Regions from separate parts of the Homo sapiens genome. Here region 2 is linked to region 1. Evidence: fine-mapped expression QTL. A gene starts in region 1. The other region holds a variant in brackets. All regions are shown on one strand. Distances are from middle to middle.

Region 1 (5,206 bases):
TCCGCCTCCCGGGTTCACGCCATTCTCCTGCCTCAGCCTCCCAAGTAGCTGGGACTACAGGCGCCCGCCACTACGCCCGGCTAATTTTTTGTATTTTTAGTAGAGACGGGGTTTCACCATTTTAGCCGGGATGGTCTCGATCTCCTGACCTCATGATCCACCCGCCTCGGCCTCCCAAAGTGCTGGGATTACAGGCGTGAGCCACCGCGCCCGGCCAATTTCTTTTCTTTTTTCTTTTTTTTTTTGAGGCAGTTTTGCTCTTGTTGCCCAGGCTGGAGTGCAGTGGTGCAATCTTGGCTCACCACAACCTCCGCCTCCTAGGTTCAAGTGATTCTCCTGCCTCAGCCTCCCGAGTAGCTGGGACTACAGGCATATGCCACCATGCCCGGCTAATTTTATATTTTTAGTAGAGACGGGGTTTCACTATGTTGGCCAGGCTGGTCTCGAACTCCTGACCTCAGGTGATCCATCTGCCTTGGCCTCCCAAAGTGCTGGGATTACAGGTGTGAACCACTGTGCCAGGCCTCGGAGAAGGGTTATTATTTAAACTAGAAACTAAATGTCTCCCAAAGTTAGCTCGGTTCGAGCCAGGAATGATTAAGGGCAGTCTGAAGATTAAATGGAAGATGAGGGTTGGTTAGATCAGATCTCTTTCACTGTCATTATTTTCTCACTGTTACAATTTTTGCAAAGGTGGTTTCAGCAATAAAAATATTTCACAAATTTTACAAAAGCAAAGGACCATGAGGACATTGTTGGGGACCCTCCCTGAACCAAGGAAGAGACTGTGACTCTTCCTTGGTTCAGGGAAGGTCCTGAACCAAATCGAGGGTCGGTAAAGCTTAAGCTCCATTATTTCCAAATTTGTGTCACCTCTGGTGACAGCACAAGGAAGAAACACAAAACAAGAACGCAGCATAGGGAGTTGGGGCTGGGCATTGCAATTCTCAATAGGATGTTGAGTGGATGGCATCAGAGCAGACACCTGAAGGTGCCATGCAGATACCGATGGGGAAGGGAATGGGAGTGGGGGTGCCACTGCATTCGATTCTAGACTTGGATAACAGTGAGTGCAAAATCCCAGAGGTGGAGCGTGCCTCAGTGGGAAAAGCAAGGAGGGCGGCGTGACAAAGGGACCCAGAGAGTCCTGGTCACACAGCAAATCAGTGGCGGAGTAGGGACTGGAACTCGGATTTCCACTAGGTGTTGTGTATGGGCAGATGGCTAAACTAAGGCCTCTCCTTGACTCATACACCGGTTTTTATTGGTTTGCTTTATAACCCCATCTCTACCTTGAGGGTTTCCCCTGGCCTCGAACCCGGTGTACTCAAGAGCTGCCCATGTCCCAGGCTTCGCGACACAGCTGGCCTCATCTTTGCCTGCTCCAACTTTAATGTCCAAAGTTGGGTGGCTCCTGTTCTCCATTCCCTCTTACTGCATGGGACCAAATCTCAATTTTTTTTTTTCTTTTTTTTTTTAGACGGAGTCTTGCTCTGTCGCCCAGGCTGGAGTGCAGTGGCGCGATCTCGGCTCACTACAGCCTCTGCCTCTCAGGTTCCACCGATTCTCCTGCTTCAGCCTCCTGAGTAGCTGGGATTACAGGCGGACGCTACCACTCCCGGCTAATTTTTGTATTTTTAATAGAGACGGGGTTTCGCCATTTCGGCCAGGCTGGTCTCGAACTCCTGATCTCAGATCATCCACCCGCCTCGGCCTCCCAAAGTGTAGGGATTACAGGCGTGAGCCATCGCGCCCGGCCAAATCTCAATTTTTATCCCCAGTAAGTTTAGTCTTGTGAAGTCCGAACGTTTGAATAATTTACTCGCTGCAGGCAAACCGCCTACAACTAAATCCATCAGGCCCCCGTATCCGAATCTTCCTTCACGCGAGAAGCCGGCCATCTTTTGTGTAGCATTCTTTCTGGTTCCTCTAACTTTGCCTCTCCTTTACGCCAAATACGTGTCCTTATATCTGAATCTACACCACTATTATAGATTCACCTTCTTTGAGAAGTCCCTATTTGAAGAGAGGAAAATTCAGGCTACTTGTAACCCTCTTATTCTTTTTAGACGGAGTTTTCCCTCTTGTTGCCCAGGCTAGAGTGCAATGGCGCGATCTCGGCTCACCGCAACCTCCGCCTCCCGGGTTCAAGCGACTCTCCTGCCTCAGCCTCCCGAGTAGCTGGAATTACAGGCATGCGCCACCACTCCCGGCTAATTTTGTATTTTTAGTAGAGACGGGGTTTCTCCATATTGGTCAGGCTGGTCTCAAACCCCCGGCCTCAGCCTCAGGTGATCCGCCCGCCTCGGCCTCCCAAACTGGTGGGGTTACAGGTGTGAGCCACGGAACGCGGCTCCTCTTCCTTCTGGATATGGCTGTCTCAGATGGCCAGAGGCCTCGGAAAGGCTTCCGGTTTCCCGGCAGGCCCGAGTGGGGCTGAACTTCCGGCCTCAGGACGCAGGCGCGGGCCGCTCATTTCGCTCTTTCCGGCGGTGCTCGCAAGCGAGGCAGCCATGTCTTATCCCGCTGATGATTATGAGTCTGAGGTAAGGTGGCCGTAAGGGCGCGGTGGGCTCCACGACGGGGTGATCTCTGGGACCACTGGATGTGGGTCCCGGCGCGAGGCAGCTTCCGGGTCGCGGCCAGCTCCGGCCGACCTCCCGCCCGGCCCTCAGGCTGCTCCCACAGTTCCCGGTCCCTAGACAACCCTGGCTCTGCCCGCCCACTTCGCGTGTTCGATTGGCTTGTCCTTCCCCTTTCTAAGACCGGAGACTAAGGCCTGTTAGACGTTTCTGTGTTTCTGCACCTGAGTTTTTTTGGTCTAGGCTCCGTCTGGTCAAATCTCGCTGATTCCCACAGCCTCTTGTCCTTTGCTCCACCTCATTGCACCCGTAATGTTGTATTGTCATTGTCTGTTTACTGTCCCTTTTCTCTAAGGCGTGTGAGTTCCTCAAAGGCAGGCACAGTGTCTTATTCGCCTCTGTATCCTTAGCTCTCTGCTTGGCATCTAGACTCTAGGATGAGCGTTTTGAATTCACGACTTGGCGGCTGTCCTTGACTGTGTCTCTTTCCTTCTAGGCGGCTTATGACCCCTACGCTTATCCCAGCGACTATGATATGCACACAGGTGAGACCACGGGTTAGGCTGGCTGAGTACTCGTAGGGATCAGTTCCTTTGGAATGTCTTAGAACCAGCTCTGACAGGCATCAAAAATTGCTCTTTGATGGTCCAGGTTTGGAGTCAGTCATTAGCTGCCAGTGCGAGGGGTTTTATAAAGCCTAATAAACCAGGCTTTTTATCATAGTCCACCTCAGTCTTGGAAGAGAAGGATTACTTACCTGGCTATGGTTTTCTTGTGTAAACTATTAGCCAAATAAGAAAAGCTTTTTTGTTTTTGTTTTTGTTTTTGTTTTTGAGATGGAGTTTCCCTCTGTCCCCCAGGCTGGAGTGCAGTGGTGCGATCTCGGCTCACTGCAACCTCCGCGTCCCTCGTTCAAGCAGTAGTTCTCTTGTCTCAGCCTCCTGAGTAGCTGGGATTACAGGCGCCCACCACCATTCCCAGCTAATTTTTAAATTTTTTTAATAGAGACGAGGTTTCGCCGTGTTGTCCAGGCTGGTCTTGAACTCCTGACCTCAGGTGATCCACCCGCCCCAACCTCCCAAAGTGCTGGGATTACAGGCGTGAGCCACCGCGCCTGCCCCAAGGAAGAAAATCTTGATGTGAAAAATTTAAGTAATTCAAACCAAGCCCGAATGAAATCTTTTTAGGAGGTGTCTGAGGTTTCCTGAAACGTTATAGTGACTTGACTTAGTAGTCAGTGTTATCCATTGTTCTAAGTACTTTGTATGAAATATTTTGTTTAATCCTTACAGCAGTTCTGTATGTTAATGTCTCCTAAAGAATAGAAAATATAGCAGAGAGGTTTATTAGTAGTAACTTGGCACAGTCATATATTTAAAAGGTGACAGTTATTCATTCAAGAAATATTAAGTACCTGTTACCACTTACTTTCCAACAGTCTTGCCTCTCTCCCCTCCAACGCACACTTTTCTAGGCCCTGAGGGTATGTCTGAGTACAAGACAGACGAGATTCCTGACTTCCTAGACTTGGGAGAAGGGTGCAAAACAGATAATAAGTGAAAAATAACTTTAAGTCATGGTAATATTTTTGAAGAAACAGGGACAACGAGATTGGGAGTGACTTGAGATGTTTGTATCTCTGAGTATTCAAAAGGGAATTTTACGCAGACCTGAGTTTAGTTTCTGGGGTGGTCTTGCCATTTCGTTCTATCATATATGTGGGTTTGAGCATACTCTGTATTTGTTGTATCCAACCTCCAGGAGATCCAAAGCAGGACCTTGCTTATGAACGTCAGTATGAACAGCAAACCTATCAGGTGATCCCTGAGGTGATCAAAAACTTCATCCAGTATTTCCACAAAACTGTCTCAGATTTGATTGACCAGAAAGTGTATGAGCTACAGGCCAGTCGTGTCTCCAGTGATGTCATTGACCAGAAGGTGTATGAGATCCAGGACATCTATGAGAACAGGTATGGGCTACTGGCTGAAAGGGCCTCTTTCTGGGTGGGACTGGCCTGGTAATATAGTTCCTACAAATGAGGTGAGCACTCTGTAAACAGTACTTTCGGGGGGGTTGGGGGGTGGGGGTCTTTGTGAGTCCTTGAGGCTAGGGACATTTTATTTTGTTAGACTTTATTTTATTTATGCATTTGTTTATTTTTTGAAACGGAGTGTCACTCTGTCGCCCAGGCTGGAGTGCAGTGGCAAGATCTCGGCTCACTGCAACCTCCGCCTCCTGGGTTCAAGTGATTCTCCAGCCTCAGCTTCCCGAGTAGCTGGGACTACAGGCATGTGCCACCATGCCTAGTTAATTTTTTTGTATTTTTAGTAGAGACAGAATTTCACCATGTTGGCCAGGCGTGTGTTGAACCCCTGACCTCAAGTGATCCACCCGCCTCAGCCTCCCAAAGCACTGGGATTACAGGTGGGAGCCACCATGCCTGGCCTAATTTTTGTATTTTTAGTAGAGACGGGGTTTCATCATGTTGGCCAGGCTGGTCTTGAACTTCTGACCTCAAGTGATGTACCCCCGTTGGCCTCCCAGAGTGCTAGGATTACAAGCGTGAGCCACCATGCCCGGCCTGTTGGACTTTATATCCTCAGAAATTTATACAAAGCCTA
Region 2 (5,206 bases), 360 kb after region 1:
CTGATTGAATGAATGAGCCCTGGATCCCTGCCCTCTAAGAGCTCCACAACACATGGAGAAAAAGGCCTGGGAACCCCAGAGAAACAGGAAGCCAGGGCAGGGGCTGGGGGAATCTTGAAGCAGTCTCCCAAAAGCGAGCAAATCCTTCAGGACTCAGGCAACTTCCTCCCTCACACACACAGGCATGCACTGCCCGCTTGTCCCTTTGGGAAACATTCAGGGATAGTAGAATTTGCTGTCTGTTCATTCATCTGTTAGCATACGATCCTGGGAGAGAGTGGACAGGAATACGGTTGAGGCCTGAGGACCCTACTGTGTTGGCTTGCGGGGAGGCTGGCATTGCAGGGTTTTGAAATGGGCCAAGCACGGACAGGCTCGTGGGTTTGTGTCAGTAGTGATTCCTCTGACAGCTCTTGGGGGAGGATCAATGATGGGGATTGGAGACGGAGGGCAAGGCAAGAGGCTGGTGAGCAGGCGGTTGTGGTCATGGTCCAGATGAAGGAGGAAGTGGTCTGTGGCTGTGCAGGTGGAGAAGAGGGCTAGTCTGATAGTCTGATAGTTTGTGTCTCATGCCCCCACCTCCAGGAAGCCTTCACCGCTTTCCTTTCCCTACCTCCATTCTGCTGGTGGTCTTGGAGCTCTGGGCCAGAATCTGAAACTCTAAACTCAGAGACAGTCATTGTTGGAAGGTACCTTAGGCTCGGAGGACGTTTGGCATAGTGGGAAAACTGAGGCCCAGAGAGAGGGAGTGCCGTACCTGAGGCCACACAGCGAGTGTGAGAGGGTACCTGAACTGGGGCTGGAACCCCAGGCCGTTGCTTCTCTGTGGTGCTTGGTTCTTCCAGCCTTGCTCCCCTTCCAGCAGGGAGGAGGCTCCAGCAGTGCTGACTGCCAAGAGCTAGGAAAACACATTTTTTCCCTGTCCTCACAGAGCGAGCAGAATGGCTCAGCAGCCAGAAAGGAGCCCATGCCAGCGGGTGGGCCTTCTACAGGATGTCTCTGGAGTGGACTGGTGGGGCCAGGGAGGGGGACGTTGGAGGGTTGTGGCTGCTGACTGGACAAGGCAGTTGTCAGTCCCTCAAGAGTCACCTCTCTCCTTATGCCTCCAGAAGACGTCATGAACCTGCAGACCCTGGAGGTCAGCTCTGCTGGCTTCCAAGGGAAGAAGCCAGGGAGAGGTGGTGGTGGCCGACATAGAAGACAGAGGACCCCTGGGTTCCAGTCCGCCACGGCTACCAAACAGTGGCTTGGTTGCCTCAGGTGCTGAACAGGGGATCGGATCAGCTACTATTTCTCAGGCCCAGGGTCAGCCAGCCTGGCAAAGGCAGAGGACCCAGGCCCCTTGGCAGCCCCTGGCCTGGGGTTGGCAGCGGAAAGCCTGAGGTTACCAGAAAGTTCCCCCTTCTTGTGACTTTCCCCCTGTGATTGCCTGACTGCTGAGCTAGGACATTCCTGGGCAAACGTGGGTGCCTCAGCTGACATCCAGGATGCGGTTGAGGGGGCTGAGGCTCGGACAGGAGGGCATGGAGGAGTGGGGGAAGAGCAGGTTCAAAACCTTCCTAGCACCTGAGGGTATTTACAATCACAGCCAGCTTCCGCTATTATCAAGGATAGGGAATGGCTGATGGTTCCATCTCTCAGGCCTGGTCTGGAGGCAGTGTTGAGGATTCTAGGCTGTGTCCAAGCTCAGGAGAAAACAGTTCTGTGCTGAGAAAGACTCAGGGGCTGTGGCCTGCCTCACTGGGAATTGGTGCTGTGTGTGGTTAGTGATGTCTCTGTTGCTTGTGGATAGTGGGATGATGGTGAGATGAGGTGATCTTTCTTGCCTATGCCTCCTTTTTTTTTTTTTTTTTTTTTGATGGAGTCTCGCTCTGTTGCCCAGGCTGGAGTCCAGTGGCTTGTTCTCAGCTCACTGAAACCTCCACCTCCCGGGTTCATGCAATTCTTCTGCCTCAGCCTCCCAAGTAGCTGGGACTATAGGTGTGCGCCACCACACCTGGCTAATTTTTGCATTTTTTTTTTTCTTTAGTAGAGACAGGATTTCACCATGTTGGCCAGGCCGTTCTTGAACTCCTGGCCTCAGATGATCTGCCCACCTTGGCCTCCCAAAGTGCTGGGATTACAGGCGTGAGCCACCACGCCTGGCCTTGCCTAAGCCTTTATATTTTACACACCAAGATTATTGTGATTATTCCCACTTAGCAAGGAATCCAGGACTCAGGAAAAATGACTTGTGCATGAGGCCAGACTGTGCCTCTGAGGTTCTGTATCAGCCGCAACACCCAAAGGGCAGTTGATTAACTTGCGTGGGGAGAGGCTTCCCTTCTCCCATTGGGTCTTTCTGTGTAGCTCAGGTGGCCAAGCATCACTGCACGTGCCAGCTCCCCAAACGGCTGGTAAGGGGGCCTGGATACTTAACTGTAACTTGCAAATCGTATCCCTAGCGGGCCCAACACAAATCCTGGAGAATCAGAGCTGGGGTGGCCTTGGAAACTGGCAAGTCCAGCTTCATCTTCACAGGGCTAGGGAAACAGGGCCCAGGGAGGTCGCCCTGCCAGGGCCACACAGGGAGGAGGTGTGTGGCTCCATGTGGCCTCAGGCCTGAATTCTATTATTATTATTATTATTATTTTTGAGATGGAGTCTTGCTCTGTCACCCAGGCTGGAGTGCAGTCGCGTAATCTCGGCTCACTGCAACCTCTGCCTCCCAGGTTCTAAGCGATTCTCCTGCCTCAGCCTCCTGAGTAGTTGGGACTACAGGTGTGTGCCACCAGGCCCAGCTAATTTTTTGTATTTTTAGTACAGACAGGGTTTCACTGTGTTAGCCATGATGGTCTCAGTCTCCTGACCTCATGATCCGCCCACCTCGGCCTCCCAAAGTGCTGGGATTACAGGCATGAGCCACCTTGCTTGGCCATCTTTTTTTTTTTTTTTTTTTTTTTTTTTTTTTTTTTGAGACAGAGTCTCGCTCTGTCACCCAGGCTGGAGTGCAGTGGCGCGATCTCAGCTCACTGCAAGCTCCATCTCCGGGTTCACGCCATTCTCCTGCCTCAGCCTCCCCAGTAGCTGGGACTACAGGCGCCCACCACCACACCCGGCTAATTTTTTTTTTAAGAGGC[G/A]GGGTCTTGCTTTGTCACCCAGGGAGTGCAGTGGCGGGATCACAGCTCACTGCCGCCTTGAATTCCTGGGCTCAATGGTTCCTCCTGCCTCAGCCTCCTGAGTAGCTGGGGCTATAGGTGTGCACCACTGCACCCGGCTAATCTTTTTATTTTTTGGAGATGGAGTCTAGCCATCTTGCCCAGGTTGGTCTTGAACTCTCAGGCCTGAATTCTACCCCATGCTGGCTGTATGAGCCTGGACTACTCTATTGTCCTCTCTGGGCATTACCTCAGGGTTGGGCGAACCAGGGAGGTGACGGTGTGAAGGGACCAGGTTTCAGTCCTGGGCCTTTGCAGCTATTCATTCACACCTATTGTGTGACTTCAGGCAAGTGCTGCCCCTCTCTGGGTCTCTACCTCCCCTTGGGTAAAGGGAGGAGGCAGGACCTGATGGCCTCTAAGGGCCTTTCCTGCAGTTCCCTGTGTGACCCCAGCCAGCTGGGAGATGCTAAATCAGAGCGAGACCCCAGTGCTGGCTACAGGCCTGACCCCTCCTGGACAGACAGCAATTCTAACCTCCCAGCTGCTCACTGACCTCTACAGTGTATACCACTTGATTCCACCAAAACCCTGCGAGGCAGGTATTGTTCCGATCCTTTAGATGGGAAAGTGGAGACCCAGAGAGATGGAGTGGCTCACCCCAGGTCACACAGCCTGAGAAAACAGAGATGCGACTTAAACCCAAGCTTGACTCCCAATCCAGTGCTCCTTTCCCTGTTTCCCACACCCCACCTTTGGGCCCAAAGTCACGTGGATGGGATCCCCTCTGCTCTCTTCCCATTCGCCTAGCATCTGTACTGTCTCTGCCAACAGGCCCAAGGAAGCAGCTGGAGAGGAGGAAGAATTAGAGACAGGGCCAGGAGGTACTGAACTACGTTTCGGCTTGGAACCCGGCTTGGTGACAAGCTGGGTGATGGCGTCAGAGACTCTGACCATCCACCCTTCCCCAGTGCCTGCTCCCTGCCAGGTCTTGAGATGGGTGGCCTCAAGCACCCAGAGCTGACTCAGCCTCTCCCTGTCTGGTGGAGAGACAGCAAGGAAATACAACCCATTACACACAGGGGTGGGGGTCCCTAACAAGTCCTAGGGATCAGGGAGGGCTTCCTGGAGGAGGAGATGTCTGCACCCAGGGCCGAAGGATGAGTAGGAGTCTGCCAAACAAAGTAGAGGGGAGTGAGGGGAGAGAAATATCATGGGGTGGGAGGTGGCTCAGAGGCAAGAAAGCGCGGGTGGGAGGAAGTGAAAGAAATTCTGTGTGGCTGGAGCACAGAGTGGAGGTGGCAGTGGTGGGAAATGGGCGTGGGGCTGGACACACAGGGCCTGGGGTGCTGGGAGGGTGGGTCTGGACTCCATCCTTAGGATAGTAGGGAACCATGGAAGGTTTTTTTTTTGTTTGCTTGTTTGTTTTTGTGTTTGTTTTTGAGATGGAGTATCACTCTGTCGCCCAGGCTGGAGTGCAGTGTCGCGATCTCGGCTCACTGCATGCTTCACCTCCCGGGTTCACGCCATTCTCCTGCCTCAGCCTCCTGATAGCTGGGACTACAGGTGCCTGCCACCACACCCGGCTAATTTTTTGTATTTTTTAGTAGAGACGGGGTTTCACCATGTTAGCCAGGATGGTCTCAATCTCCTTACCTTGTGATCCGCCCGCCTCAGCCTCCTAAAGTGCTGGGATTATAGGCATGAGCCACCTTGCCCAGCCGAACCATGGAAGGCTTTAATCTGGCTGGTGGCATGGTCAGATTCGCGTGGTGCAAAGATTGTCCAGCTGCTGTGTGGGAATGAGCTGAGACCAGCAGGGAGGTGTGCTGGGACCTCCCCAGGTGTGTGTAGGGTGGTGAGGGTGACCACTTAAGAGGCCTGCATTGGGTTGGGCGTGGTGGCTCACACCTGTAATCCCGGCACTTCAGGAGGCCGAGGCAGGTGGATCACCTGAGGTTAGGAGTTCGAGACCAGCCTGACCAATATGGTGAAACTCTGTCTCTACTAAAAATACAAAAATTAGCTGGGCGTGGTGGTAGGCGCCTGTAGTCCCAGCTATTCAGGAG

Evidence for each region. PIP is the estimated chance that this variant, and not a neighbour inherited with it, causes the effect. A credible set is the group of variants that fine-mapping cannot tell apart.
Region 2: its variant is the best candidate, but not a certain one, in a credible set for the expression of EIF3L in whole blood (TOPMed, PIP 0.61).

The regions. Positions count from the first base shown.
Region 1 is chr22:37,846,937-37,852,142 of GRCh38, forward strand. It overlaps EIF3L (eukaryotic translation initiation factor 3 subunit L), which reads left to right and starts at 2,483. Exons shown (of 13, transcript NM_016091.4): 1 at 2,483-2,546; 2 at 3,079-3,127; 3 at 4,344-4,554. The coding sequence starts at 2,514. MIR659 (microRNA 659) reads right to left here and starts at 838; the gene lies at 742-838. It also overlaps a transcript of ANKRD54 not described here. RefSeq lists enhancers at 1,602-2,124, 2,125-2,647, 2,648-3,169.
Region 2 is chr22:38,204,505-38,209,710 of GRCh38, forward strand. All of the region lies in intron 1 of MAFF (MAF bZIP transcription factor F), which reads left to right. Among named protein-coding and RNA genes, the nearest start is that of MAFF, 5.1 kb to the left of the region's middle. RefSeq lists enhancers at 12-156, 2,996-3,140, cis regulatory regions at 84, 3,061-3,078 and a silencer at 297-346. The variant G/A (reference allele first, on the strand shown) is at 3,120.